Homo sapiens: one gene and its partners. The protein of the gene in region 2 interacts with the protein of the main gene of each other region in a pairwise test. Each region holds a gene or a part of one and is shown on either strand. Other genes may lie near its edges. The genes, in order: RBP3, HR, AMMECR1 and SPRY3.

What was found.
Region 1: the proteins of HR (region 2) and RBP3 interact in binary tests that used the Homo sapiens proteins (3 or more experiments, as listed by UniProt).
Region 3: the proteins of HR (region 2) and AMMECR1 interact in binary tests that used the Homo sapiens proteins (3 or more experiments, as listed by UniProt).
Region 4: the proteins of HR (region 2) and SPRY3 interact in binary tests that used the Homo sapiens proteins (3 or more experiments, as listed by UniProt).

What each region holds. Positions count from the first base shown.
Region 1 is NC_000010.11:47,351,363-47,358,664, forward strand, and holds the end of RBP3 (retinol-binding protein 3 precursor), read left to right. Parts: coding exon 1-176; intron 177-1,962; coding exon 1,963-2,153; intron 2,154-4,013; coding exon 4,014-4,156; intron 4,157-5,739; coding exon 5,740-6,095; 3' UTR 6,096-6,519; downstream 6,520-7,302.
Region 2 is NC_000008.11:22,127,801-22,135,160, forward strand, and holds the start of HR (lysine-specific demethylase hairless), read right to left. Parts: upstream 3,211-7,360; 5' UTR 2,909-3,210; coding exon of another isoform or gene 2,804-2,908; 5' UTR 2,628-2,803; intron 1,411-2,627; 5' UTR 1,371-1,410; coding exon 759-1,370; intron 30-758; coding exon 1-29. Other genes in the region: protein HRURF, read right to left, coding at 2,804-2,908. UniProt on the Homo sapiens protein: Histone demethylase that specifically demethylates both mono- and dimethylated 'Lys-9' of histone H3. May act as a transcription regulator controlling hair biology (via targeting of collagens), neural activity, and cell cycle.
Region 3 is NC_000023.11:110,314,842-110,322,358, reverse strand, and holds the start of AMMECR1 (nuclear protein AMMECR1), read left to right. Parts: upstream 1-4,273; 5' UTR 4,274-4,287; coding exon 4,288-4,760; intron 4,761-7,517.
Region 4 is NC_000023.11:155,615,292-155,622,593, forward strand, and holds part of SPRY3 (protein sprouty homolog 3), read left to right. Parts: intron 1-7,302. UniProt on the Homo sapiens protein: Inhibits neurite branching, arbor length and neurite complexity. Inhibits EGF-mediated p42/44 ERK signaling. Negatively regulates the MAPK cascade, resulting in a reduction of extracellular matrix protein accumulation.

The DNA of each region.
Region 1 (7,302 bases), on a different chromosome or scaffold from region 2:
AGATGGCCACCAAACTGAGCGGTCTGCAGAGCCGCTACTCCAGGGTGACCTCAGAAGTGGCCCTAGCCGAGATCCTGGGGGCTGACCTGCAGATGCTCTCCGGAGACCCACACCTGAAGGCAGCCCATATCCCTGAGAATGCCAAGGACCGCATTCCTGGAATTGTGCCCATGCAGGTGAGACCCAAGAGAGACCTGGCTGAACCCAGTCCCGGGAGTGAGTTGACCCATTGTCCGCACATGCAGGGCTCTGTGCACAGTGCGTGACAATGGCTTTTAGATTTGTTCTCACGTTTAAGTTTTGACCGGTCAAGTCCTTTCCTCTTTCTCAACCTGTTCCATCCACTCTCTGTGACCCTGGGGTTGCTGAACACCTCTGTAGAACATTCATATTAGGTTGGTGCAAAAGTACTTTCAATGGCAAAACCCGCAATTACTTTTGCACCCACCTCACAGGAAGCCAGTTTGAAAGCCAACCAATACTCACAGGAAGCCAGTTCGGAAGCTCCTGGGATAGAAGGCATTTCAGCCTTGGCTGGGTGGAAGGTGAGTGTTGGCAGGGCTTCTCATTGTCAGTGCTAGGGAAGAGGCCAACACCTGTCAGAGGTGGCCAATGGACTTCACCAAGTGCCCCACGCTGGCCGAGAGCTCCACCTAGGCAGCACTCACACCTCCACACTGTTCTACCTGTGGTCTGCTGCATCGTCACAATTGGGCAGGGCAGCATTTGCCATGGGATCCCTTGCAAGGAGGGTCTGAGACCAGGGCTTGGGTGCAGGCGCTTTGTCTGGGAGGCGGTTACTGAAGCAGGCATGAAGGAGGGAGCAGGGAGAGTGGGTTGGGAAGCTGACAGGCAGGTGCCTCAAAGCTGTTCTGCTGAAGCCAGGACCCTGACGAGTGCAGGGATGCTCCCAGGCATAGCCCTCTGCAGGCAGGGCCCAGTGGTTCCTGTCCCGCATTGGCCAAGAGTTGCCCTGAGACATGCCTCAGGGTGGGGCAGGCTCCCTCTTCTTGGAGAAGGCCTGAGCTACGGGTGGAAAGGCAGGGCTGTGCTATAGGAGAGCCTGTCAGTGGGGTCGGGTGCAGCTGAAAGCAGAGGGGGCTGAGAGTGCCAAAAGCATCTACTACAGAATTGTTATCCCCATTTTCCGCAACTGAGGCCCGGAGAGGAGCAGAGGGGAGTGGCCTGAGGCCAGAGAGCTGTGACTGAGGGCAGGGCAGGGCCTGGAGGGCAGTGTCTCTGTCAATGAAGTCTCCTTGCCTGTCAATCTCACCAAGACCTGCCTCCCTCCAGCAGCCTTAGAGAGGGAGGAGGAGGTGCATCCACGTGCGAGTAGCCTGTGCTAGGCTTGCAGAATCCCCAGTTTCCAAATCAACATCTCCTTCCTTTCCAGTATAGCCAAGGTTCACGATTTGGAGTCAGATGTGGATTCAGATTCTGGCTCCACCACTTACTGACTGTGTGACCTGAGACTAGTTACTTAATCTCTCTGTGCTTCAGTTTTTCCATGGAAAAGATGGGGATCGTGTTATCTCCTGTACAGGTGGCTGTGAGGATGATGATAAGCTCTACAAAGTGCTTAGTACCGGGCCAGGTGCCTGGTAAAGGTAACTAACATCTTCCAATCCTGCCCCAGTGGAGCAGCTTAGAGACATAGGAAGTATCTGGTAAGGTTGGAGAGGTCAGAGGGGAGTCCATTCCTGGGCCTTCTAGCTCAGGACACCAGGGCATGTGGGTGGCAGACAGGAGCATCCTCTGCAAGGAGGCTGCCCATAGATCACACATGTCCCAGTGGCATGTCACATCCAGACATGCCACTGGGAAAGTCCCTGGTGTCTACTAATTCCTTCAGAAATGTTAGTTCCTGTCCCATGCCCTTAATATTTCCCATGGCGCCTGCTTTCCTGGGCTCTAAAACTGGCTGCTCCTCCTGACACTGAGTAGGACCTCCAACTCTTACAGATCCCTTCCCCTGAAGTATTTGAAGAGCTGATCAAGTTTTCCTTCCACACTAACGTGCTTGAGGACAACATTGGCTACTTGAGGTTTGACATGTTTGGGGACGGTGAGCTGCTCACCCAGGTCTCCAGGCTGCTGGTGGAGCACATCTGGAAGAAGATCATGCACACGGATGCCATGATCATCGACATGAGGTCAGTGGCCAGGGGTCAGTGCTTCCTAGCCAGGACGCAGGGCTGCCAGGGGACAGTCAAAGCTATGGGCCACAGCAGGGAAGAAAAGGAACCCTGTGACACAGCAGAGGACCTGAGGGGGGCCAGGCCTCCTGCCTATCAGGGCTTCGGCCAGCTAGCCCAGCAGATCTGCTGTCATTGCAGGTGGGGCCCAGCACTGGTAGTTTTTGCAAGCTTCTCCAGTGATTCCAATGTGCATTCCAGATTGAGAATTACCCCAGATTTGCCTGGTCATAGGATTCAGTGGGGAGGAGAGGAAGGAGATGTTAAAAACACTGATTCCTGGGCCCCACTCCCCTCTTACTGACTCAGAAGCTCCAGGGGACAGGCCCGATAATCTCTATTTGACAGGCATCCCAGGTGATTCTGATGGTCAGTGGTGTGTGAGACAGCCAGGCCCCCCACCTGGGAGTGTGCCTCACATCATACAAAATCAACACATGACAACCCTGGTCATATGAATCGTACAGGCAGAATTTGGAAATCACACAGGGAAAATTTAGAAGTTAATCACTATTGTTAACAAAAGAATTCTTTGCATCACCAAATGATTGTCAGAAGGATGTCTTCAGCTAGCCACCTCCCCTCTGTTTCTGTAAAAATGTGCCTCATATGTCATGAGTTTACCTCATGGACCAGGGGTAGGAGGTGGATGAGTACCCTCAGGCAGTGGCCAGACCTGGCATCCCATGACTCTGGGGTCCATTGGTGGACATGCCCCAGCACCCTCCCTGGGCAGGTTGCCTTCCTCAGACGGGACCCTTCCATGCTCCCGTGTTGTCTGAAAGAAGTGGCAGGGGGTGGCAGACCAGAAGCATTCACCCAGCTCCAGTTCTCTAGCCCTCAGCGCTCACTCACATGGTTCTTAGTGGTCACTAGGTGGCTCTCGGTCCTGCACCCACTGCTTCTCCTCCCTGGGAGATAAAACATTAGCCCTGGCTCCAGTTCTGTGTGTGTTCACAGCCTGAGCTTGAGGCTCCTGGGGTCTCTCTGATCATTTTATTCTTTAGAAGTTCTGTTGAGCACCCAAATGACACTCATGCTAAGTCTCTTTCTTCTGAATATGCCATTTACACTTTTTAAAGAGGAGATGGCCCCAGCCTGCAAGTGCACTTTGCTTAAAGACCCTCCCACCCCTGAGGTTTGTTTGGAGGTTCAGACACTGACATCACAGGCCCCGAACCCAGCCAGGCCATCCCAGGCCATCAGTTGGACGAGGCTCCTTAACACATCACTAGCCCCAGTGGGGAGACAGGGGCCCAACGAGGTCACACAGTGGGACAAATCTAAATGGCCTGGGAGAAATACAGGCTCCCCTGCTCCCAATGCAGCTCCACAAGCCTGAATATTTCAATACACTAAGTGCCCTGTTAAGACACCTGAACTAAGACAGCTGGTAGGTGTCATAAGATTGTCACAGAATGCAACGGGAAAAACAATGTTTCCCAAAATGTGTTCCACTCATAGGAAGATATGGGTGCAGGGGAGCAGTCCATGGTCAATAAATGGGGGAAATTTATCAACAAGTTTCTGACTGCAGGACTTGTCAGGGCCTTTAATATATTAACATGTATTAATTACATAGCAGAAGGAAAGGATAACATATTTGATCACTAAGTTTCTTGTTCTAAAGAGACTAGTACTCTTGGAAATACTCTGGAAAATGCCAACCCATGGAATTCTAAAGGAGGAAGAGGCACTAGACTGAGGCTGCCAAGAATTAGAACCCTCCATGGGACAAAGATCCTGGCCTCCCCGAGGGGCACACAGGGCCTCACTGTGAGCTCAGCCCCTGAACAGGCTCTGCTTCCCATCCTTCAGGTTCAACATCGGTGGCCCCACATCCTCCATTCCCATCTTGTGCTCCTACTTCTTTGATGAAGGCCCTCCAGTTCTGCTGGACAAGATCTACAGCCGGCCTGATGACTCTGTCAGTGAACTCTGGACACACGCCCAGGTTGTAGGTACGTGGAGAAGCTTTCTCCTTTCTGCTGTCATTCTAGAAGCTTCTGGGAAACCAGGGAAAGACAGCTTGGGTGTAGGTAAAAGTCATAGTAACCAGAATGTAAGGCCCTGTCCTAGTCCAGGCACTAGATGTGCATGATCTCGAATCCCTGAAAAGCATGTATCACTATGCCCGTTTTCTAGAGGAAAAAAAAGGGGGTGTTGACTAGGTCAAATATCTTTTCTAGGGTCATGCAGCTAATAAGTGAAACCCAAAATGTGAATATTAGTTTGTCTAATACCAAAATTTCCCCCAGGCTTAGCACCATAATCACCAGCCTGCAGGACAAATGCAGAATTTGAAGGATTCTCCCCGCCCCTCACCAACCCCAGTGGGCATTGCCAGTGCTCACAGTACTTGAGCTCTCAAGCCACAGTGCCACAAACTTGCCTGGAAAGGTCATGATGCTGATCGGGCTTCTGTTCCCCGCCCTGGGCCCAGAGCAGTGGCTATAGGAGCAAAGGCAGGCCCTGAGCTTTACAGAACCATAACTCTCAAAGCCCCATTCCAGGGTGGATGGCCTCCATCTATCTTCCCTGCCCAGTGTGTAAGACCAAGGAACTTGTGCTCCTACCCAACAAGAAAGGACTGGAGAGACCGATGGGGGTGTGCCTGTGACCAGAGAAACACCCCACCATTTTCATGTCCATGCTTCTGTAATACACAGGCATTTTGCTGTAGCTCCTAGGACATACGTTCAATAATATTACAAGTGTAAATGCAAATCAGAACCAGGTGAATTCTAAATTCAAATAGATGTTCAAGACTGGAAGTTAAAGATAGACTCAATTCTGCAGATAATGAGGCCCCAAAACCGCAAGGTCCAATATGGGAGCCACAAGCCACCTGCGGCCACCAAGCATTTGAAATGTGGCTCTCCCAAGTTGAGATGTGCTGGAAGTGTGATGTGCTGGAAGTGTAATGTGCATACCAGATTTTGAAGACATTATGAAAAGAAAACCTCATTAATAATTTTATTTGATTACATTTTGAAAAGAATGTATTTTGGATACATTGGCTTAAACAAAACATGATTAAAATTAACACCATGGGTTTCTTTTTGCTTGCTTAACATGGCTACTAGGGAACCTAAAATGACATCTATGGCCAGCATTCTGGCTCACGTTGCATTCCTGTTGGACAGTGCTGTCCTGGAGAGTTGTTCTTATACATCACAAATTGGGCTTTTCTGAGTCCAAAGTGAAAAGGAAGTCAGGTCGGTTTAGGTGTTCTCATTATTCATGAAGAGAGAGGATGCTCCTTTCTCAGGAGAGTCAAGCCTTTCCTATCACTTGGCATAAAAAGGCCTCGTTGGGAGTTGTCAAGCACTGAAATCCTCGTGATTGGGCATGCATTCTTGTCCCCATTTTACGGATGCAGAAATCAAGGCTCAGAGAAGTCAAGTGGCTCACAAGTGGACACAAGGACACAGACCTAAACCCCCGGGCCTCCTCCATCACTGCAGGCCCAGGCAGGATAGAGAAGACAGGTGCTCCAGGGTCCTGACATGACCCCCATCCTGAAGGGCCTTATGTCTTCCAGGTGAACGCTATGGCTCCAAGAAGAGCATGGTCATTCTGACCAGCAGTGTGACGGCCGGCACCGCGGAGGAGTTCACCTATATCATGAAGAGGCTGGGCCGGGCCCTGGTCATTGGGGAGGTGACCAGTGGGGGCTGCCAGCCACCACAGACCTACCACGTGGATGACACCAACCTCTACCTCACTATCCCCACGGCCCGTTCTGTGGGGGCCTCGGATGGCAGCTCCTGGGAAGGGGTGGGGGTGACACCCCATGTGGTTGTCCCTGCAGAAGAGGCTCTCGCCAGGGCCAAGGAGATGCTCCAGCACAACCAGCTGAGGGTGAAGCGGAGCCCAGGCCTGCAGGACCACCTGTAGGGAAGGGCCCCATAGGCAGAGCCCCAGGGCAGACAGAACCTCTGGGACACACACCAAGGGCACTCCTGCAGGTGGCCCGGCCTGAGGTTCCCAGGAGCAGCAAAGGGGCCTGCTGAGCTCTGGTTAGGTTACAGCTGGAGGTGTGTATATATACACACACACACATGTATATACACATATATATGTGTATGTATATATATGTATATATATATGGCTTTCCAATAACCACCTAAATTTTAACAAAGGTTCCTTCTAAGTGGTAGAACTTGGGGTGGTATTTTTACCTTCCTTCTTCATACTTTGCTCTTTTTCTTAAATACTCATTAATGTGCATATATCATTATTTTCAGATGCAGCTATCATTATTCCAAAATACAAAATAAAGAAGATAAAATAAATTATATACCCGAGCCATTAACCACAATTTAGTGATCACTAGTGGTTGTTAAATCTCTTCTTTTCATGAGTTCTCCATTCACATTATTTAGATCTTCTGGATCTGCCCTGCTGACCTCTATGGACAGCTGATTTTATTTAAGATGTGGTGCAAGATGCTGTGGGGTCAGCAGGTGGCAAAGATCTTGTGGATCTTAAATAGGGAAAGGGCTGGTGCGGCCCTTCTGCTGGTGATGTACATACACTGGCTGTGTCTCTTCTGAGCCTCATGCCGGCTGCATAGCTGGCCACTCTCATCTTCTACCCAGGAGCCAGCTGAGACACAGACAAACTCCGCAGCTCACCCAAGGTCACACATCCAGCATGGTGGACCTGTGTCCTCCTTTGGGCCACCCAGCATTTGCAGCACCTTTGGATGATCAGAGAATCACTGCCCATAGGAATCAGTAGGAAACAGTGATGTCAGCCTTGCCTGGGTGGGAAACCAGCCCAGCCACTTCCCCAGCTGAGTGGTTCTGGGCAATTTGTTTCACTTCTTTGGGCCTCAGTTTGTTCACCTGTTCAATGGGAGAAATAATACTACACTTGGAGTTGTGAGAATGAAGTGAGTTAATCTAGTGTCCAGCCAATGTTAGCTGTCATAATTTCTCCACCACAAAGCTGAACACTCTGGAAGCCCCACTTTTCCAGCCCTTCTGGCAGTAGGGCATGGGCATGTGATCCTGCCTTGGTCAACCAGAAGCTCCTGTGCAAGATGTTTAATCTGGAGCAAGTGGCCAGGGAGCCTGGGCAGCGGCCATCTGCCAGAAGC
Region 2 (7,360 bases):
GGAATGCTCGGATCCTTGTAGTAAAAGCCCTAAAGAGGGGAGAAAGTGTTACGCTTCAGCTGACTTGGGCTCCCCATGCCTAAATGGATGGGCAGAACTGACAAGCAAGAAGGAAGGGGAGAATACTGAAGCCCTCACATTCTGATTAATAAACAGCACTGCCCTAGGTCTCTGGAGTGCCTCTGACACTGTCCTGGCAACCCCCACCTCCTCCCCCAGGATTTCTCAGACGTCCCCACAAGGAAGTCTAAGAACTAAAGAGTGAATGCCTGGCACAGCCAAAGGGCATCTGGGGTCTGTTTGGGCCATTTGGTGTCCTGTGCCATACTGAGTTTTAAGTGTTTTAACATCTCATCCCTGGGAGTGGGAGTCATCTATGGAGGAGGTACCCTAGACATGGGCCATGGGGTCCCCTGCACATCCCAGTCTCAGATAGAGGGCCCTTGTCTGCCCACCCATCTCCTCCCAGGACAAGCCACACATTCCAAGGCCACAGTTCCCAGGACCTTATCCTAGGCAGACAATGGGTGAGTCAGTGGCTGCAATGACCCGAGGGCAGGGGAGGCCTAGAGAGATGGAGCTGCTCAGGGTAGGGCTTGCTTGGGGTTGACTGTGGGGCCTGGGACAGCTCCAAGCTGATAGACCCCTCTACCTCGGTGCTGCCTTCTCTTTTCATCACAGTGGAAGGGCATCTTGGGGACCACCGAGCAACTTTGCTAGGCCAGAGCCACAGGTACCCTCTCTGCCCCTGCACTCACCTTGCTGCCTAAGCTGAAGGCAGAGGGCACTTTGGGCTGGCCCCCGGAGTATACCCAGGGGTGCGGGGTCAGGGGCCAGTCACATGGATGCTCTGGGGGCAGGCCAGACACTAGGTAGGGTGGCAAGCAGGTGGGCACCCAGAAGGGAGCTCGCTCCAGGATCTTGGTCTCCAGAAGGAAAGGGCAGTGCCAGGGCCGGAAGGCCACAGGGTCACTCTTGAGATGGCCACCACTATGCTCAGGCATCAGGGGGCCACAGCGAGGTGGGCACGCTGGCCCGCAGAATGCCAGCGGATGGGTAAGCATGGCCTCCTTCCAGCGCAGTCCCTCTTTGCTGCCCAGCCAGTTGACCTTCCTCTCCCCATTCTGGGGGCCCTCGCCCTCCACAAGTGGGAGCATGTCCTTGGGGCCCTGGGGGAAGCCAGGGGGAAGCCAGGAGTCTGGGGTGCTCAGGACGCCCCTCCAAAAGGGAGCAGGCTCTCCCAGGCACAGCGGCCCATGGTGCAGTCCATCTCGAGGCGGGCTGCCGGGCTCCTGTCTCACGATGCCGTTCTCTGGGGCCGTCTTCTCCCAGGTTGGGGTGCCCTTCAGGAAGCTGGGCGTACTCTCCATCACTCTCCTGCCCTCATGGGGCTCTCCCAGAGGGGGGTCCCTGGAGCATAACCATCAAAGCATGAGCTTCTGGGGCACATGTCCCAAGCACCTTACAGCCTGGCACAGAGTGGGCACCGCCCTGGCAACACTGAGGCAGCTCAAACCAGTAAGGCAAGTGCCAGCCCACAACTGGGCACCATGCTGCCTCTCCACATGCAGCCAGACACATCTTGCTCCTCCAGTGTGGGGATGTTACCCCTTCCCCAAATTCCACCTGGGCCAGTGCCCCTCAGCGGAGGCTGCCATTGCTAGTAGGGCATGTCCTGGCCTCACCAAGCTAGGAATCTGCTCACGACCCATGAGGGAGGACAGAAAGTGGAAGGCACTGAATGAAGAAAAAGGCTGGATCCTGAGCCTGACTCTGTCCTATGCTGTATGGCCTTGGGCAAATCATGTCACTCCTCTGGGCCTCAGTGTGCCCTTGAGGCTTGGGTCGGCTCAGAGGATTCTTCCCATCCTGCAATCCGTGGTTTTGGGGGTGCTGCTAGCCCAACCCTAGCCTACAGCCCCAGCCAGGCTTGTAGCCGTGGGAAGTGCAGGCCTGGCAGGCTGGAGTCGCTGGGGAACGCTGCCAGCCAGGGCCGCTGGCTGTGTCTCTCTCTACACCTGGGCGGCCCTGAGTCAGCCTCTTCCCAGAGCCCTGCAGTTTCTCGGCTTCTCAAGCAGAGTCCCAGGACAACTGCAGGGGGCTAGGAACCCCGCCCTGGCCCCCAGCGGGAAGAGCGCGCCGGCACAGGGGAGGGGGATTAAGAAGCCTCAGCTGGATGGGTCAAGCTGCCCTAGCCCAGCCAGCAGTGCCAGGGCAGCCGCCACCGCCGCTGGAAACTTCAGCCTGGCGGGGAGGGGAGAGGGAAGGAGGCGGGGAAAGCGGGCTGGGCCCCAGAGAGAGGCAAGGGAGGGAAAATTGAACGTGCGTGCAAGGGACCAGGATGACAGGTGGCACTAGAGCGGCAGCGCTGCCTTGGCGCGGTCCCTTCGGCCAGAGCGACGAAGCCCCAGGCGGGAGGTGACGGCGCAGTGGCAGAGGGCGCCCAGGTTTTCTGGAGCCACCGCTCCGCCGTGGTCTGGCCGCGTCGGGCTTCCTAACTTTCAGGTGTCAGAATGTGTGGCCCAGCCCACAGGGGCACGGGGAACACGCTCCGTACGGGCACCGCAGGCTCGGCTCAGAAATCCCCCGCCACGAGTGTCCCCAGACGGCGCGCTCCTGGCGCTTACCTGGGCTTCACCGGCCGGTCGCGGCGCGGGCGGTGGCGGTCGTCGTGGCCGGCACCGGGCGCCTGCTCCCCATGGGCCAGCTCCGGGGCCTCCCGGCCGGCGGGCGAGGACGCGTTCTCCCGCTCTGTCTGCTCAGCGCGCTCGCGCTCTCCTTCCCCCGGGGCGGCGGGGGCGCTCTAGGGCCGCAGGTTGGAGGGGTCGGACTCCGGGATCTGCAGGATGCGGCACACGGCGCGGATCGGCCGCACCAGCTTCTGGGCCGAGGCCGTAGGTTGCGCCATGGGACGCCGAGACTCCGTGCTGCGCCGCGGGGAGGGCCGGGCCGGGGCTAGGGAGCGGGTGCCCCCGGAGGGAGAGAAGGCGCCGGGCCGGGGGGAACACGCGCCCCGGGTCGGAGATGGCCGAGTTGGGGGAAAGGCCGAGGGGCCGGGGAAGGGGGTCGTGCCTGGATGGTGGGGGCCGATCCTGGGACCCAGGAGAGAGGCACCGGCGAGGGCGCAGCACCGCGCAGCGCGGCTAATGGAGGTAGAGCGCGGCGGAGAGCGCAGCAGGACCTCTGATCGCCATCGCCAGAAGCGCAACTGAGAGTGGGGAAGCTGCTCCGCCGGTTTCCTCCTCCAGCACCCTGCGGGAAACAGGAGCCCGTGATTCGGCGGCCGCGCCTGGGCCTGCCCCCTCCCGGGCCCCGGGGGCTTCCGCCAACGCCCCGGCGATGCCACCGGCTGCGCACGGGGAGAATGAGCCCTTTGTTCCCCCTCCCCCCCGCGGCACCCGGGCGCCTGCCGAGAGAGGCTCCCCCGGGGCAGCGTGCCAGCTTCCCAGCCGCCCCACCCTCCCGTGGGCCCGGCCCCGGAGCCTGGCAGGCGGGCGGCACCCCCACTATAGGTGCCAAGCCCGGGAACTGGAGCAAAGGGCGGGAGGGGCCGGACCAGGCCACGGTTGGGCGGGGTGCCCCCCAGGGTGCTAGGGCGGGGCGGCTGGGAGGGGGCAGTGCCAGAGCTGGCAGGGGCAGTCGAGTTCTCACGGGTCAGTGATGGGCGCTCTGGCCCACGCCAACCGGGCTGTGCCTGCCGGGCCACTGGCTCCTGGTCCTCTCCATCTGTGGCACATGGCACGCCCCACTGGCCTGTGTCTGCCCTGCCTCATCCTCACCTGGCCAAGCTGCTCTTTGCCATCTTCCACCCCAAACCCTTCCCAAACCTCTTCCAGAGCCCAAGGGCACAAAGGGTTGCGTCCTAGGACCTCTGGGAGGGCCTGGGCTTGGGTCTGTCCCTGGTCTAAGGGCCTTGATTTTGCCAAATGTCTGGAGAGGTCATGGGCCCAGATGAGCTCCGACACCGGCTCCAGACCCCGGGCTGTGAGGGTCTGCCCCATCCCCAGGGTTCCTGGTGCTTCCAGGCCAGGGGCTGGAGAGGCGCCCATGGGAGTGGCTCCCGGGAGAGTGCAGAGAGGAGGAGAGGAAATGGAAAAGCAGGGCACCCTCCACCCGAGGAAGCATCCCGGCTCCGCTGCGGGGGTGGTTCCAGTGCAGACACAAACAGACAGATTCAAACACACACAGACAGATTCAGACTCACACAGAAACCCACACGCCCAACGGGCGCTTCCCTTCCCCTCAGGCACCCACCTCCCACCCTCGGCTCCCCTGCCTCCCTGCGGAAGCCAACCTTGGCCTGCCTGGGACAGAAGCTGCACTCCCTCTTTCCCATCCCTTGCAAGCGATGGGTTCTGGATGCCTCTAGCTTGGTCCCAAGTCACACCACCATCCCTGCAGAGGGGAGCCCTGAATAGCCAGGAGCCTTCCTCCTAAGGGATGAGCAAGGCCTAGAGCCTTCTACCGGTTGAGAAGAGTGGGGGTCCTGGGGAGCGGGGGTCTAAAGGAGCGGGCACTGGGCCGGACTTGGGCCATGTTGGCATCCATTCACCCTGCCCCTGGCCTGCCCCCAGAGGCCAGTTCTGTGGCAAGGCAGGCTGGTAGGGGTTGTTTACATGACTGAGTTAGTAACACTCCCTTCCTCCCCAGCTCCCCTGAGGGTGGCTGGGACCTGAGTGTGCCAGGGGAGATGCTTGTAGAGGGTCTAACATGGACTGGAGGCCCCAGGCCCTGAGGCCCGGCCTCCCACTCCCAGGCTGGCTCCAGGGGTGAAGGTAAGGGCTGGGGTGTGTCTGTGGTCCCCCATCTGTGTTCTCTGTGCTCCCTCCTCAGCAGCCGAAGCTTGTGGGAGTGCCAGGGGGAGATTCCTGCGGCTTGGGGCCTCGGAGAGGCCAAGATGGGAGCCTGCGCTGTCCAGAACCCTGAGGACCTATCGCTGACATCCCCAAAGGGGATGGGGACTATCCCAGGGGAGTGGGGCAGATATCCCCCCCAACCCCAGTTGCCATGTCTGCTTTGTCAGGCCACGGTCCCTGGACTAGAGTAGCAGGGCTCTTGGGGACAGGCTCCTGAAAAGCCCAGGGGCTCGTGGGGACTCGCGGGATGGGAGGAAGGACCCCTTCCCCACCCTCGCCCAGCTCCCCATCCCGCTTTGGAGCCCATGCCACAGGCCCACAGAGTCCTTGTAGCCGGCTGTTCTGTGCCTGAAGACGGAGCAGAGCTGAGGAGACACACAAAAGACACAAACACAGAAGAAAAGCCACACGGCGCGTGGACACAATGCCAGACTTGTGGACAAAGGCAAGCTGACCAGCACCCCCAGCCATTCAGGGGCCAAGCCCCAGCCCCGCACCGACCCCTGGCTCACTGACACACACTCACTCGCTGACACACGCTCGTGCTGACGGGCACAGCAGCACTCACGAGCCGGCGGCCCTCATGCCATCCCCAGAGCCCCTTACCTGGGCAAGCACAGTGCCCCCCGGGCGGAGCAGCCCCCGGCCCAGGGGAGGGCAGCAGGCGGGGGCGGGGGAAGGAGCCCCGGAGAGTCAGGCCAAGCTGCCACTAATCCGGGCGGGGAGAGGGGGGGCACCCACGTCAGAGCGGGGACTGCCGGGTGGAGGGCATCTGAGGACATCCCCTCCCACACACGCGGCCGTCTGGGCACCTAGCCCTGCTTCCCCAGCCCCTCCATCCTTCAGACAGCTGAGGCTGGCCTCCCCCCACCCCACCCCCCACCCTGTGGCAACGCCTGGTGGGGGATGGGGAAGGGGGAATACCAGGCGAATTCTCCCGGGACCCGCGGGGGTGGGGGCAGGGTGTGGGGAGGAGGGGAAGGGAAGTGTGGGGATGCGTTTGGAACCCGGAGGAAGCTCCAAAGCAGATGCCGCCATCCCCTCCCGCCCACCCACCTACATCCCTAACCTAATTCCTCTTCTCAGTCTGCACCTCCCAGTGCGCTTCCTCCTCCCCCCACCTCCCCTCCCCTCCAGGTTACCCCCACAAGCTACCCACCGGGGAGAGGAAGCCAGCTCCACTCTGCCCTGGGCTTGAGACCTTTGTGCCTACCCGGAAACACCAACTGTGGCCCCCAGGACTTCTCCAGCAGCAGAGAATCCTCCTCCTGCCCAGGCGTCTGCCCCCTACCCAGCTCTTGAGACCTCTGGTCCCTGATGCTGGGTAGAGGATGGAGCCAGAGGCTGAGTGCCACCTCCTTAACCCCCTCAAGGTGGAGGGCAGTGCCAACCAGGATGCCCCAACCCAGCCTGGGCCAGGGCTGTGTCAGAACTAGAGGCTAATCAGTGACAGCTAAAAATACAGCCAGTGCGTGCGGCGCACATGGAGGCTGGAGACGGGGAAGGGGACCAGGACACGGAGGGCCCCAGGCCTAGAGGGACAGTGATGGGGGCTGAAGAGTCAGGGAGGGAGAGGAGCCACCTGGAAGGGCCAAGGGATGGCTGTGGGTGGAGAGCAGAGAGAAGAGAGGGGCAAGAACAGAGGGCGATCCGCACCCAGAAACCAGGGTGGATATGCAGGAACCCCTCAAAAGCAGACAAGCTGCAGGGGAGGTGAGGAGTGAGACCAGGGCACAAACCAAGTGGGGCAGGGGCCAGGACCCAGCAGAGGTGTGCAGCTCTAAGGGGACTGGCTGTGGCAGCTTTGTGTCCCCACCAGCCCTGATCCTGCTCGTGGCCCACTGTCTGGTGGCGAGAAGAGGGTTGGGGGTGCTTAGGCAGGCTGGCATGCAGCCTCCTCTTCCAAGAGAGGCCAGGCCAGAGGGGGTGGAGGGTGAGACAGTAACCCCCTCCAGTGTGCAACTGGAGGCAAAGTGTGCAACTGCTGGGCAAAGGTGAGGTCTCAGGGGTTCTCAGAGAGGCAGGGCTGGCTCTCAGGGAAGCCCAGTTGACAACCAGTGCCCTGAGCCTCCGGGTCCCATGTGTGCTCACCCAGAAATGCCCCAGAATTTGGACTTCTCCTGGCTCCTTCCCCTCTGTCCCCAGCATGTGTTGGAATTCATACAACTGCAGTCAGCCGTTCACCAAACCCGTGTTCTAGGGGCCTTGGCATGTTCAAGGCTTGGCGGTGGGCCCCAGGCGATGCAGGGCACAAAGGCAGAAATCACGAGGCCATCCCACCCGCCCGGCCTCCCCCACCCAGAACATATGGTCACTTCACGCATTTGTTCTTTCACCAGCAAAACTCCTCCAGGCTTCTTAGGTATTGGCCCTGTGCTGGGCGCTGGGGGTGTTGGGCTTGTTCATGAATGATTACAAGATGCTTCTAGTCCCACCCTGGGGAAGTCAGGGGAACTTCATGGAGGAGATCAGAGAATGAGATCAGGACTTCACCACCCAGTCGC
Region 3 (7,517 bases), on a different chromosome or scaffold from region 2:
CTTCATGTTTTGATTGTTCACAACTCCTCTAACTGCCCCAAATAACACTCTGTTTGATCATCTTCTTCCTAGAAAGCCTTTTTCTCCAATCTACAACTAGCTAGCTTTATTAATTCTTCCACATTCAGAGTAGATATTAGCATATCTAAATCTCATTAAGGAGTTTATAGAACTTTCTCTAAAGGAAATAGGTAGCAAAACAACATTCAATTAGTTTGTACTCAAGTTGACAATAGAAGATGTAAATGAAACAACTAGAAAACAATCCAAGGTAGATCATGGTGCTTTTGCTCATAAATGTGTTCATTAGATAAAGAAAGAATTTTGGAAGGAAGGATCTGTTTTGTAATCAGAAAAACAAAAACTGATTTACGAATTTGAATTGAAAAGTAGGTAAAGAATTTCAGTATTTACTCACGTATTCATTCAAATATAAAAGGGAACTGATTACCACCTCCACCACAACAACCATGTGTTATACGTGTACAAGGTTAGATCAAAGTGGTAGCTAAGAATATTACATTCTGCAGTTGTTCAAGGATGACAGTTGAGAAAGTTTGATGACAGAGGATAAAAATAACACTTGTTTGGGCATAAATGGCAGGTTTTTTTTTCAATGAAATATGTGAATGTTCCTCCTTTTACCCACAACCCCAGAAACCTAAGAAAATAATTTTGCAACATTAAGTTCACCACCTCATCGAATTATAATTATTCTTATTTTCTGAAATGAAAAAATAACTATGTTGTAAACACGAGAACAAATTGAGGCAATGATAATATATTAACTAACTATTGGGTTTAATTCAATTACTAGCTTTGCTGCACAATAAATAATATGCATAACCTCTGTCCAAGTATTTTTTTCCACAGTTGTAAAACAAAGCCTTTGACAGGAGTTAGTTAACAGCAATTTAGAGCTGCCTCTAAATTGCAGAAATAAAAATGCTCACAATTTGAATGTGCTTTGTTGACAAAGAGACTATGGCCTATTTTTTTTTTTTAAGTGGAATCTTCAGCTCCCAGATTGACAGTCAGTTACAAAGAGAGGAAGGCAACTTAAAGTTTCCTCTGGAGGGTATTATCACTGCAGTCCAGTATCAGCAGTGGGTAGAAACCATGTGCTCTATCATATTTTGACCTTTATACTTCAAGTCAAGAGAATCCTGAGCAAGGTCAGTTTTTCTATCCACCCAGTGTGCACTTTGCATAGATGTAAAAAAATTTTTTTCACAGAATTTGTTCTGTGGATTTAGTTTATGTTTGAATGAAATATGTTTCTTTTTATGCTGGTGACTTTACAAGAAAACAAGGCCAGGAGAGGCATTTCCTCAAATGCCTAAAGGAGACATTACCACCATCACCACTACTTGCCAAGCGATTTATAAAGCATCTTGAGGCTCAAGGTTAGTATGGGAGATGAGCCAGGCTCAGGAGAAGTTAACACAAAGATAAAGGTTAGTGTTTTTCCCCCTTTTAGTCAGCCAATACAACAAAGTACTTAGATAATAACCCCTAGCGGTCAGGTAATGATGTATTTTCTGCAATTATCACATTTGTGTTTGTCTATTTTCTTTATGCTAGTGAGGTTTGGAATTGGAATTGAAAATCCTCTAGGGAAAAGCTATTTTTGTAATTCAGCTGGGGTGTCCTTGTCTTTGGGTTTTCCCATTGCATCAGTCCCTTAGCCTGGCAGGATAGCCATGATAGTGCTTTGTCTTTTAGATGAAATGCAGAACTAAGGACATGACTACTGGTGCTTATTAAAGATTCCTTGCTATTTTTCACAAGAGTAGGGGCGTTAGACTCTTGTCTACTGGCCAAATTCTAAATTGGGAGATTACATTCTGCTTTCCTAAATTCCCCTAGCAGAAGCAGCCATCCATGGTATCCTACTTTGCTTCCTGTGCTAAACTGTTTTGTGATGTCATTAAATGGCTCTGGTTTTTTACTCTAGAAATGATCACTTTAGTGGGGTGGGGAGTAAATCGATACCTATTGTCTGATATTATGTTCAGTCTAGTTTCAAAAAAATTAAAAGGTAGCCTGTGGTAGTTAAGGACAAAGTACAAAACAAAACACCCTAACGTACAAAACACCCTAACATACCAGTTGTTGTGGTGCTTTTTAAAAAAACCAATCTGCTTTCTCTTCTGTAACATAGACAAAATATTAATGCATTTTTTTACTCCACTAGTAATTGACAAAGAATTGTTATTTGTTTCATACTTAAGGTTAATTCTAACAGTGATGAAGTTTGAGAGGATGAAATTACATATCACCGACCAATTAAACTATCCCTTTTGTCTTTAGGCTGCATCTAACCATTCCAGATTTTCATCTATCTATCTCATAAAATCTTTTTGGAAGGAGATTTTTCATCTTTCCTTGGTAACATATTTCAGTGTCTCTCAATCTTTCCATAAAAACTAAGTTCTTATTTCTGTTTAACCTCGGTTCCACCTGCTGGAGTGTAATGTCACTATCTTTTGTCCATCCTTAGCCTTGTTATCATATATTGTTAGTGAGAGGCAATGTAGTATAATGGCATGGTTTTTGGAATCAGACATGCCAGCATTCCAATCCTAGCTCTGTTACTTTCTAGGTGTGTGATGTTGGGCAAATTACTTCTGAGGTTTAATAGCCTCATCTGTTAATGAGTAACCTCAGAGCATTGTTGTGAAGATAAAACGAGATAGTATCTTATTCTGAAGGATTATGGGGTAGGACGAGGTATGGTATTGGAGACCTAAAAAGTGTTCAATACATACTATAATAGCTATTTATCTGATTATGTGCATGTATCTGACTTAATTCATAAACTCTTTTAGAGCGGGAGGCATACTTCCTGAGTACGCCCTGGATTTCAACAGAAGTATAGTGTTGTGCACATAGTATGGTGCAGAGGCTCAATATTACTGAATGAATAAATTGTTTTGTTTTTATTCCCTGAGTGGAATGAACAGCCCCCAGCTATCTGCAAGATCCCACGCATGTAGAAAAAAGGTGACAAAAATCAATCTGCAGTTTTTAAATATGCAGATACCTGACTTTATCTAGATGTTTTAGCATGGTGTAGATACAATGCAAATAACTTACGCTTTCTATTTCTATCACGTTCATTTCTACGAATTTTAACATTTGATTATTGTCATTATTTTTATTATTAAGCTGCACTTAGGCACCCAGAAAGGGACTGACTCATATGTCTCCTCATCCATCCAAGCATTTAATTGAGAAATTTTAAAAATGAATATTAAGAGCTAATTATATACTTGAACAAAATCTTTCAATTTGTGACTAAGTACATTACCTTCCCTATTTATCTCTAAGATCTGAGCACTACAGATAATATTCCTAATTGCTTTGTACCCAAGCCAAGAAATAAAAACCAAAACCAGAAAAGTCCACCACTGCAAGTCCCAAAGCACAATTAGTATCTTTGAACCAGTGAAGTATTAGTTAGGACTTTATTTTTGGCTTTTAAATGTTTAAACGGGGCAAGGAGGGTAAGTTGGGGGAACAAGTACAAGATACATAGATTCAGTCGGACTTGAATATTTCTCCATAAGGAAAGGAAAGAGTACCCTGGTGTGTGCTTAGGCTGGAATTAAAAAGACAGCAGCGTGGCCATTTCCTGGATTGCTTTGTACACACTTTACAGGGGCGGTCTCAGGTATGGAGCTCTGGGCACCTGCTCGCTCACACTCCAACAGTTCAGAAACCCGTGTATTTGAGGCCGGGTGGCTCAGGTTCCACGTAACTGGGCTTAAGTGTCATTAATACTGCTTGCGGCGGGGGGTTACTGAGCTGTGCTTTGGGACCTGGATGCTTACTTCGGACTTTCTCCTTTCTTCCCCCCTACCCCCACTAGTTTCCCTTTCCCTCCTTCCTTCCCGGGCGTGCCCACCTTCTCCCTTTGCTCCCACTTTCCGCTGTCTGACTCTTGTTTCCTTCACCTTCCTTTCTAATCGGCTTCCTGTCTTCCAACCTCTGCCGGCCGGAGAGATTGAGATTGGGGCTGGGGCTGGGGCTGCGGCTCAGAAGAGGCACGAGTCGGGCGGGACAGGCGCGAGGCGCCCAGCCGCGAAAGCGAGGAGCGCGCACCGAGGCGGGGGCGCGCGCGGGGCAGCCGCGTGGCTAGGCAGACGGGGCCGGGAGCGGCGCGCGCGCGCCCCGCCAGCCTCTGGCGCGCCCCCGGCGGCCTGAGCCGCAGCGTGCTCGCCCCCGCCGCCAGCTCGCCTCACTTATGGGTCGGAAACGCTGCGTGGGGGAGACTGTTCCAAGATGGCGGCGGGTTGCTGCGGGGTGAAGAAGCAGAAACTGTCCAGTTCGCCCCCCTCTGGCTCGGGTGGCGGTGGTGGCGCCTCCTCCTCCTCCCACTGCAGCGGAGAGAGCCAGTGCCGAGCTGGGGAGCTGGGACTAGGAGGCGCCGGTACGCGGCTCAACGGGCTGGGAGGTCTAACCGGAGGAGGTAGCGGCAGCGGCTGTACCCTCTCTCCCCCCCAGGGCTGCGGCGGCGGCGGCGGGGGGATCGCCCTGTCGCCACCTCCGAGCTGCGGAGTGGGGACCCTACTTTCTACCCCGGCCGCCGCCACCTCTTCCTCACCCTCCTCATCGTCCGCCGCCTCGTCCTCATCGCCGGGCTCCCGGAAGATGGTGGTGTCAGCAGAGATGTGCTGCTTTTGCTTCGATGTGCTCTACTGTCACCTGTATGGATACCAGCAGCCCCGGACCCCCCGATTCACCAACGAGCCCTAGTGAGTACCGTGCCCTCCGCCGCCCTCTCCCTTGCGCTCGGGATGGGGCTCAGAGTTGAGGCAAAGTGCGAGTCCGCCTCCCGGCCGGCGGATGCCCCTGCCCTCTCGCTGCCCGGGTCCCCGGAGCTACTCAACTGAACTAAGGGCACCCTGCGCTTTTTGCCCTCCGAGGCAGGCACCCCACACTTGGAGCAGGGTGCTGCTGCAAGGAATGGCCCCGTGGCTCCTAGAGGTGTTAGCTTTCTCTTTGCGATGACTTCGAGGAGTTTTGACTCCTTTACTTGTCTCCTTCACCACCCCCACCACCCCTCACCCTGCCCCGGTTTTGGAGATCTGGGTTACTCAAGGTGTTGACCTCTCCTCACTTTGGTTTCCATTACCCCAAGTGAAAGCCCCGCCAGTATTCCCGCCCCGCGTATCTTGCACATGGAGAACTACTATCCCATTGCAGGATGAAAAATAGCAACTATCCAACTTCTGTTAGTGATGGAACTTAGCTCTGGAGCTTGTGAGGTTACCCATCTTCTCCTCTGGGTTTTCTTGTGCCCTGGGAAGGGGGGAGGTTTCTTAAAACACATTTTTCCCTTACTACTTATTTTTATCCAAATACACCCATTAAAATGTGTTTCTCGTGTAGCGAGCGCACTGCCGGCTTCCTCACATTTGAAGAGTGCGACCTTTTTTTTTTTTTTTTCCATTCCACCGTCTGGATAATAGCTCATTCAAAGAGAACTGTCCCCACAGAGCCACGGTCAGTTTGTACATTAAGCGTGCATTCGCTTTTGTGTCGATTTCACTTTTTAAGAAATCCATGTTATACTTGATGATTTGAGAACAGTTAAATAGTAAATGTGTAGGAATTGTTATGGTTTCCTTTGGTTTTGTATCTTAAATTATTTTACCCTTCAAGTGTGTGGTTGAAAAATTTTAAAATAGCACTGTTACAGCTAAAAGCCAGGTTAATTCTAATCCCTGTCCATTTGGATGTGTGGGAGGTGGGGCATATGGTTTTTTTTTTTTAATGTGTAAACTGAATGTAAACTGACTTTTTGCGTTAAATGCTAGACAGAATGTAAAGACCAAGAGAGGGCAGAATGAGAAAAAGTGCAATTGCTTTTATTTGAGTACTTAGCATCAACAAGAAAAATAATACAGAAAAAATTTCAGTGAAACTCGTACTGAAAGGCATCAGCCCCTTTTCCAGCTAAGACAAGTGCCCCTTGTCCCCCATATCATAAATACCTGAATTGATGTTCTTTTAAAACTGCTCCTTTTCATTTTGTGAGATTAGAGGATTGGACTACTGTTGTATAAGTATAAACATTTCTGCCTAGACTAAAATATTAAATTAATATGTAAAGTGGAAATTACAATAAAGTGTCCTGGAAATTGTGCATTTGTACTGTTTGTTTTCTTTGGCTTTCATTCTTTAAATGTCTTTAATTTTGTATGACTCTTCTGTGGTCTGTGCATTTTCTTTTAGACTTGGTTAATCTTTGGGCATTGGTTTATGAGAAGTGCATGAAAGAGCATCCAGGAGAACACTTCGTCAAATAAATATCTTTATAAATTTCATAGTGTTAATTCTAGAAGCTTAAATCCTAAGTCCACACTTTTATTTAGCCAATTCATTTTTTTGGTTAAGAAGTAAAATTCATTTTGAAAAGACTGCCATGTAAAATAAATCTATGAAATATTTATTAGCTTGAGTCACTTATTTGTGACTTTTATGCCTTCTCTTGGATGTCTGTGATGTATTAAAGCTAGTCCTGGGATGATACTTAGGTTGGCTCTGCAAAGTCATGGGACTGCAAAAATTCACTCCTGTTTAGTTCTTGAGCTGTTAACATGAGTTTGGCAAAGGCTGCTTTAGTATTCACGCTCCATTGCTCCAAAGCATATGAGAACACACTTTCAGGAGGTGCTATTTTCACACATTTTACAGTGAGTTTGGGTTAACTCAATGACTATAACAAGAATTTTAAAAGGAAAGTGAGCTTGACCAGTTCATACAGAAAATGCTTTTGAAAATATCATTTTAACAGTAGCCACTTTGCACACGTATTTAGATATTATTCTATTCAAACACCCCAGCCCCTGGATTTCTTTTTCATGGAATTAAGCAGATGATAGGACACACTTTGACCACTGTGGATATGTTGAAACGGTGGTGGAAGAATAATAACTATTATCATCTAGCAGACCTTGAATGTGTCATGTATTCTATAAAACAACTAATGTAGAGTAGACACTAAACATGACCAAGTGGAGAATGAAAGTTCACTTAAGTGGAAAATGGACTGTCTTATTTCCATTTATCTTCAACTCATTTTTGAGGTGTACTGTGGAAAATTCAGGAAAACTTCCTGATTATGGGAGGGACATAACTAAGCATTTCAACAGTGCCTTAGTAACTACCACACATTTGTCTTTCTGTTTTACATATTTAACAGCATTGTGTACTTATTAGTGTTGCTTTATCCTAAGTGCCATAAGACATAAACAGACATATTGGGATTTTTTTTTCTCATAGTTATTATCATGTCATGAGCAGTGTGTTTCAGGTCATGTCTCTGCCCACCAGATGTTGTGCTTTTGACAGTTTTAACTTCTCATACGTAAACGCACACTCTTTTCATCCTTTCCCAGGACTTTTCTCTCAGAATGTCTGTAACTGGTGAAATCCTCGTTTTATGGGTTTAGAAGCTGTAGATCCATCAGTTAGTTATCCTTCCACTCAGTATTGAGGGGATGTCA
Region 4 (7,302 bases), on a different chromosome or scaffold from region 2:
ACTGTATTAAATGATGTCTGAGAGCCATCATCTTTGACTAACATCTACACCTTTGTTTTATCAGCCTCTCAGTGAAGCTTTAGTGATCTCTAATCATATTCATAACCTTGAGTTCTTGAAAGGTGGTTAAAACTATGTGTTAATTGTGATTGTGAACTTCGATTTATCAAAGATGGTCTTTAAAAGAACTACTAGTGATCTTTGAAAGAGTTAAAAAATTAAAGAAGGAAGATTTATTATAAAAGTAGTGACTTTTAGCCAGAAAATAAATATTCTGGACACAGTGCAATGTTGAATTTGGCTGAAGCTTTGGTCTATGACAAGAATCCTGCTAGGTATTCTATAGAGAAACAAATAAATGCTAAAACTTTTCAGAAATCATCTAGACCATACAAAATTTTCCTCACCTATTCATGGACAAAAATTTGGTAAAGCTGAAGGGTATATTAATTTGTGTTTCGGTTTATGAACATTTCTGACTCTGGGGATATGAACATTTCTGACTCTCAACAGAAATGTGATTCAGCATAAACGTAGTAACCTATACAATTAATTTTGCAGTGAAGAAGTATTAATTAGGACTCATTAGTTAAAAGTTATCAAAACCTACCTGAAACTAACAAGCAAAAGAGAGAAATTTATGGGAAGATAATAAGGTGTTTCACAGAACTCAAGAAGGATTAGAACAATCAAAACTTTTAAAAAGGCAAGGTATAGTTAGGCCTCAAGAATCGTCAAAAACAAGGATTCCAGTGACATTGACTCTATCATTCTTTTACCCCTATTTTTCCCTGCACATTTATCTGGGGTCTCTCTCTCTCTCTCTCTCTCTCTCTCTCCTCTCTCTCTCTCTCTCTCTTCTCTCTCTCTTCTCTCTCTCTCATCCCCTCGTTCCCTTCCTTGCTTTCCTCCCCACTCCTCTCAAGCTCTTTTTGTTTCCCAAGTCCATGTAACAGTAGATACGGTTACGGACACCTTCCTAGATTTTCATATTACAGATTCAACCACTGAAGAGAGACACTAAGCCATATCAGGTCCTCTGAAAAGCAAATCTACAGATCTATCGTGGGTAATGGCTGGCAAGATAAAGAGGAGATTACAGTACAGCTCTATGGAAGTCTCAACCACCCCAACAGAGACTGCTAATTAGAGGAATCCTGCGTTAGACAGAAACAGCCCTAGTACACCTCTTGTGCTCAGAGATTGGCTGGAGATGCCTGGGAAGGGAATGGCCTTGGATCAAATGATGCAAAAATAATCCCAAAAGTGCTCCAGCTGGAGACTGTTAGCTGACTCCACTCCTCATAGTAGGTTTTCCCTTGAAAGATCTGAGAGGCACTCCCTGGTTACCATAGACCTTTATGGTCCTATCTCCATAAATCTATGAGGGATTTATTGGCCAAGTTTGAGACTGGTGGCCACCTAAGACCAATCAACTGTAGCTAGGTGAGCGATGTCACATATACCAAAGGATAATTTTCTCAGTTTTCCTGGGGCTGAGGAATTCCCTGTAATGTGCTAAAACCACAACAGTTCAGGGCAAACTAGGATGCTTAGTTATTTTATTAGTACCCATGTTAATAGGGGTGGGAAAGTTAAAACCGTCCAGTAATATCCTACTATATAAACAATTGTACTTTACTGTATTTATGGAGGAAATTCTATGTATAGTGGTTTTATTGGATTAGGATAATTTATAAAGGTCTCAGAAGAATTCCCTTGAAGATGACAAAAATTTCATACTTTAATTCTTGCATGCTGGTTCCCTTGTGCATTTATACATTCTTCCTCCATCTAGAATGCTCCTCTCACTGCAACCTCCCTCTCCTCAACCTTGTCCTCACTGTTAGAAATGCTTCTTGCCCATTTCTCTAGTTTCCACATGGAATTATTTCTCTAAATTAAGATTAAATCACATAATAAATGCCAAGCACATATCATAGGACATGGCATAAAATAGGGGCTTGTATCAGTCAAGGTTCTTAGTTGCATGCAACAGAAGCTGAAGCTGACTGATTTAAGCAGGAAAAAAAGTTATGTTGGGAATGACACTGGATCAGCACTCTTGCCGTTAGAAACATCATAAAACTGCATAAAATATGCAAGGAAACTGTTTAAAGATATTGAGCAATAGTCAGCCCATGATTATGATCCCCAGGAAAAGAGAAACTCACAAATCAAGCCCCAAGACTGCCTTAGCTCTTTGCCTGGTGACTATTTTCTGATCCCAGCATCAAGAGCTAGATTCCAAGCTGAGCTTGCAGTCTCATTGAACGAAGGAGGAAAAGATCAGAGCTCAGGGTAGCAGAAGCATCTGAAATCTATGGAGCAAGGCATTAGAGAAGACAATCTGTGCAGATGTTGGGACGGGTAAACATATGTCTTGGGGTTTCCAGCAAAACTTTAAAAAGAGGAGGAGTTATAGAACTTCTTGGTTTCAAGACTAACTATAAAACTACACTTATCAAAACAGTGTGGTATTAGAGTAAGAAATAACAAATAAGTCAATAAAATAGCTCAGAATCCAGTAATAGGCCGACATATATTATGGTCATATATTTCTTTGGTTTTAACCTTCTATTTGGAAATAATTGTCAATTCACAGGAAGTTTCCAAAAAATACAGGGAGACCTCGTGTACCCTTTACACAATTTCCTCTGATGGTAAAATCTTGCCTAACTCTGGTACAATATCAATCCAGGAAATTTACATTGGTAAAATCCACAGAGCATATTTGAATTTTACCAGTTACACATGCATATGTGTGTGTGTGTAGTTGTATAAAATATTCTATGTGTAACTTTGTATAATGACGACCACAATTAAAATGTAGAACATTTCCATTGCCACAAGCTTTCTCATGCTGCCCCTTTATAGCCACACTCACTTCCCTTTCTCCTCCTCAACACCTGGCAACCATTAATATGTTCTCCATCTCTATAACTTTGTCATTTCAAGAATGCTATATTAATGGAGTCAGGCAATATGTAACCTTTTGGGATTGGCTTTTTTTCTACTCAGCTTAACTCCCTTTAGATCCATCTAAGTTGTGTGTGTCAATAGTTGATTCTTTTTTATTGTTGAGTGGTGTTTCATGGTATGTATGTATCAGAGTTTGTTCAACCAATAACCCACTGAAGAACATTTGAGCTGTTTTCAGTATTTTTCTATTATCAGTGAAGCTTCTATGAGCATTCTTGTACACATGTGTTTTTTTTGGGAATACCAGTTTTAATTTTTCTGGCCTAAATGTCCAAAAGTATGTTTCCTGGGTTATATGCTATTTGCATATTTAATACTTTAAGAAACTACAACACCGTCTTCCAGAGTGGCTGTACCATTTTATATTCTCACTGTCAATGTATGAAAGATCCAGCTTCCATGCAACCTTTCCAGCATTTTGTACTGTATTTTTTATCTTAGCTATTTTTTATGTCAGGTATTCTGACAGGTCTGTGGTGATATCTAATTGTGATTTTAATTTGCCTTTCTCTGATGATGAATGATATTGAACATATTTTCATGTGCTTATTTTCTATCTGTATATAATCTTTGGTGAAAGGTTTCTTCATGTCTTTTGCCCATTTTCTACTTGGATTGTTCAGCATTTTTTATGGTTGAGTTTTGAGAACTTTATATATTTAACATACTAATTCTTTGTTAGATATGTGGTTTACAAGTATTTTCTCCCACTCTGTTGCTTGTCTTTTCATCCTCTTAAGACAATATTCTGCAGAGTAAAAGTTTTGAATTTTGAGGAATCCAATCTACCAAGTTTTTTTATGGATTGCGCTTTAGATGTCAAGTCTTTACTGAAACCTATATCCAAAGATTTTATCATGTTTTTAAAAAAAGTTTTATAGTTTTGTGGCTTACATTTAAGTCCATTATCCATTTTCAGTGACTTTTTTTGGTAAAGTATGAAATTTAGGTTGAAGTTCATACTTTTGCCTATAGATGTTCAGTTGCTCCAGGACTATTGCTTGAAAGGCTATCCTTACTTTTTTTTTAACTTGCTTTTGCACATTTGTCAAAAGTCAGTTGGGCAAATTTGTGAGGGTCTGTTTCTGTTTTTTTGTATTTGGTTCCATTGATCTAAGTGTCTATCCTTCAGCCAATACAATGCTGTCTTATTACTTTAATTTTTTTATATCATTACCAATGCCTTTGAACAGGGAAATTCTCTTAAACCACTGAAAGTTGAAGAAAATGAACCTCAAACTCTACCTCATACCATAAAAAAAACTCAACTTAGAATTAATCATAGACCTAAACGTAAATGCTGAAATTGTTAAGCATAAGGAAGAAAACATGGGAGAATATCTTCATGATCTTGTGTTAGGCAATTGTTTCTCAAAATAGAAAAAAAATCATTAACCATAAAAGTTTAAAGTGATAAACTTCATTAACATTAAAAACTTCTGCATGCCAAAGACATTGTTATGAAAATGAAAATATAAGCCATGGACTAAATACAAAATATTTATAATACCTATATCTTACAAAAGTAAGGTATCTATAATACATATAGAACTCTTAAAATCAAACATAAAAACACAAACAAACCCAATTAGAAATGGGAAAAAGATTTAAACATATACTTACAAAAGAAGATGTACGAATGGCCAATAAACATATGAAAAGATGTTCAACATCATTTACTCTTGAACTGAAGGAAAAGTTAAATCACAAAGACACAACACTTCACACAAGCTATAACATTTAAAAAAGAATGATACTACCAAGTGTTGATGATGATGTGGAGCATTTTGAGTTCTCATACATTGCTGATGGCAAAATAAAATGGCACAATTGCTTTAGAAAACTGGTTAGCAGATTCTTATAAAGTTAAACACACTTTATAAGATTCTTAGTTAAACACACTTTATAAGATTCTTAGTTAAACACACTTTAGCAGATTCTTATAAAGTTAAACACACTTTATAAGATTCTTAGTTAAACACACTTTATAAGATTCTTAGTTAAACACACTTTAGCAGATTCTTATAAAGTTAAACACACTTTCCCTATGACTCAGTAATACCACTCCTAAGTATTTACCCAAGAGAAATGGAAATATATACTCATACAGTCTTCTGCACAAATTTTTACAGCAGTTTTATTTGTAATAGCTCCAAACTGCAAATAATTCAAAACATGCAAATTGATAATTAACTATACATCCATAAAATGGAATACTACTCACCCATATAAAATAATTACTCGAAAGCAACAAACGTAGATGAACCTCAAAAACATTATACTCAGCTAAAGAAGCTAGACACAAAAGAATACATACTGTATGACAATTTATATAAAATTCTAGAAATTCCAAAATTAAATTATGCTGGTAGAAAGTAGAATAATGGTTTCCTGGAGCAGAGGAGTTGTGTATTTACTGGAAGGAGTAATGACAAAACCCTTCGGAGTGATGATAATGTTCTGTATCTTGATTGTGTTGTTGGTTACACAGTGTATACATTTGTCAAAACTCGTTGACTTGTATAGTTAAGATCTGTACATTTAACTATATATAAACTATACTTCAATAAAAATTAAGTTAGAAAAAACAGATATTTGGTGGCTAACAGAATTATCATGAATCGTGGAGAACCAGGCATGGGCTGGGTGTCTAGGACCACCAACCAAAAATTCACTGCACAACTGGTGTGACGAGGAAACCTCTTTTACTACCACAAAGGACTAGATGCTACTATATATACCAGTGCTATTTCTACAACAGAAAATCAACTTTACTGCAGCCAGTAATGCCAATGGCTGCCGCTTCTATGCTGGAAACCCGATTTACCAACTATTATTGTTCACAGAGTCAGTATGAGTGCAAGAATATGCAAGAACAGCTAAGTTTTGTGATCAAACTCTGTCACTATCATTATCTTCAGTTTATTCTGCTTATGTGATTCTGAATTGTTTTTAACTTTTGTTTTAGCAGACATTCTATGCACGTCTTGTACTATAAATAGCTTAAATCCATTTTGGATTTAAGTCAAGAAATGCATACAACAATGAAGTATATTCTAGTCATCAAACCATATTAATTTTTTCTCATATTACCTATTACATTTTTTCCAGTCTTACTGTTGGTGAGGCAAGAACCCTGGGCTCTGGAGTCAGACAAACATAGGTTTTAATCCTGGTCTACTCACATTGTCTACTCCATCCTTCCTGGATTTTCCTTTGTTCTACCACTCTCCCACTTCCATGAGTTTTCTTCTCCCTAAACATTCCTTTTTGTTTCAACTATTTCTCATAAAATGAGTTGGGCTATCATCATATGCCAACAGGAAAAAATGTGTCTTCAAGGGTCTGTAGGCCAAGTTACCAAATGATGTCCTCTCCACTCTGGTAGTCAGGGTGATATCAGCAAAGGTCCCCTCATTTCAGTATGGTCAAAGATTTATTTGAAATTCAGTGTATTACCAGCAATGCTTGGCCCAACTTCTCTAGTATGACTGACTTCCTGAGCAAGAGACTCAATATATCTGGGGCTCCAGAGCAGCCAAAGGTATTCAAGGGTCTCTTCATTTATACCGTATCTTATTACACAACGTCTATGCATCTGAGAAAGGAACTTCACCAACAGAGCAGTGCAGAAGACCCCGACATGGGTTCCCTGCCCTGCTTTTACTACAAACTCACAGAAGCCAAAGGCTACCCGCAAAGGGCAGGTGGGTGGTCCTCACTATCAAGTCAGTATCTCTGGAGTATAGGGCCACCTCCTGTACAGGCATTAAGGTCAACAGGCTTCATGTAGAAGCAATTTCAAACCAACACCTGTGCTTGTCAGAGCATGATGGGCATTCAGAAAAACCCTCACTCTGCACTTTTCACACTCTAAAGTCAGACTGTTGGGGCTATAAAATATATGTGATGCAAAGTATAGTAACTTTCAGAGGACTAACAAGAAATTATAATATCACTGCTTTTGGAAAATAGGTTCTAGTGGCCCTAGGGCATGTTTCATCCCTGAAGGATTGTGGGTATTGAAAACAAACCACTACCTGCAGTTAAAGTGAGAACTCCATGCTGTAAAATCAGTGTTAACCAGACATCCTACACTTATGTGATTTGTCTTAATTAGAGTTTGAGCTCCATAATTCACTGTCTCAGCGGCTTATTCTGGCTGTATCCCTCAAGTTTGCACAGCCAACCCCACCTTCATTCTGTAGTGGAACCCAAATAGGATCCTATCTATTGGAGCCATGTCTGCTAAGTAAAAATAAAAATGGAGATACCTAGGGCATGACTTTGCACTACAGGCTGAAAATGCTGCAGTTTGTG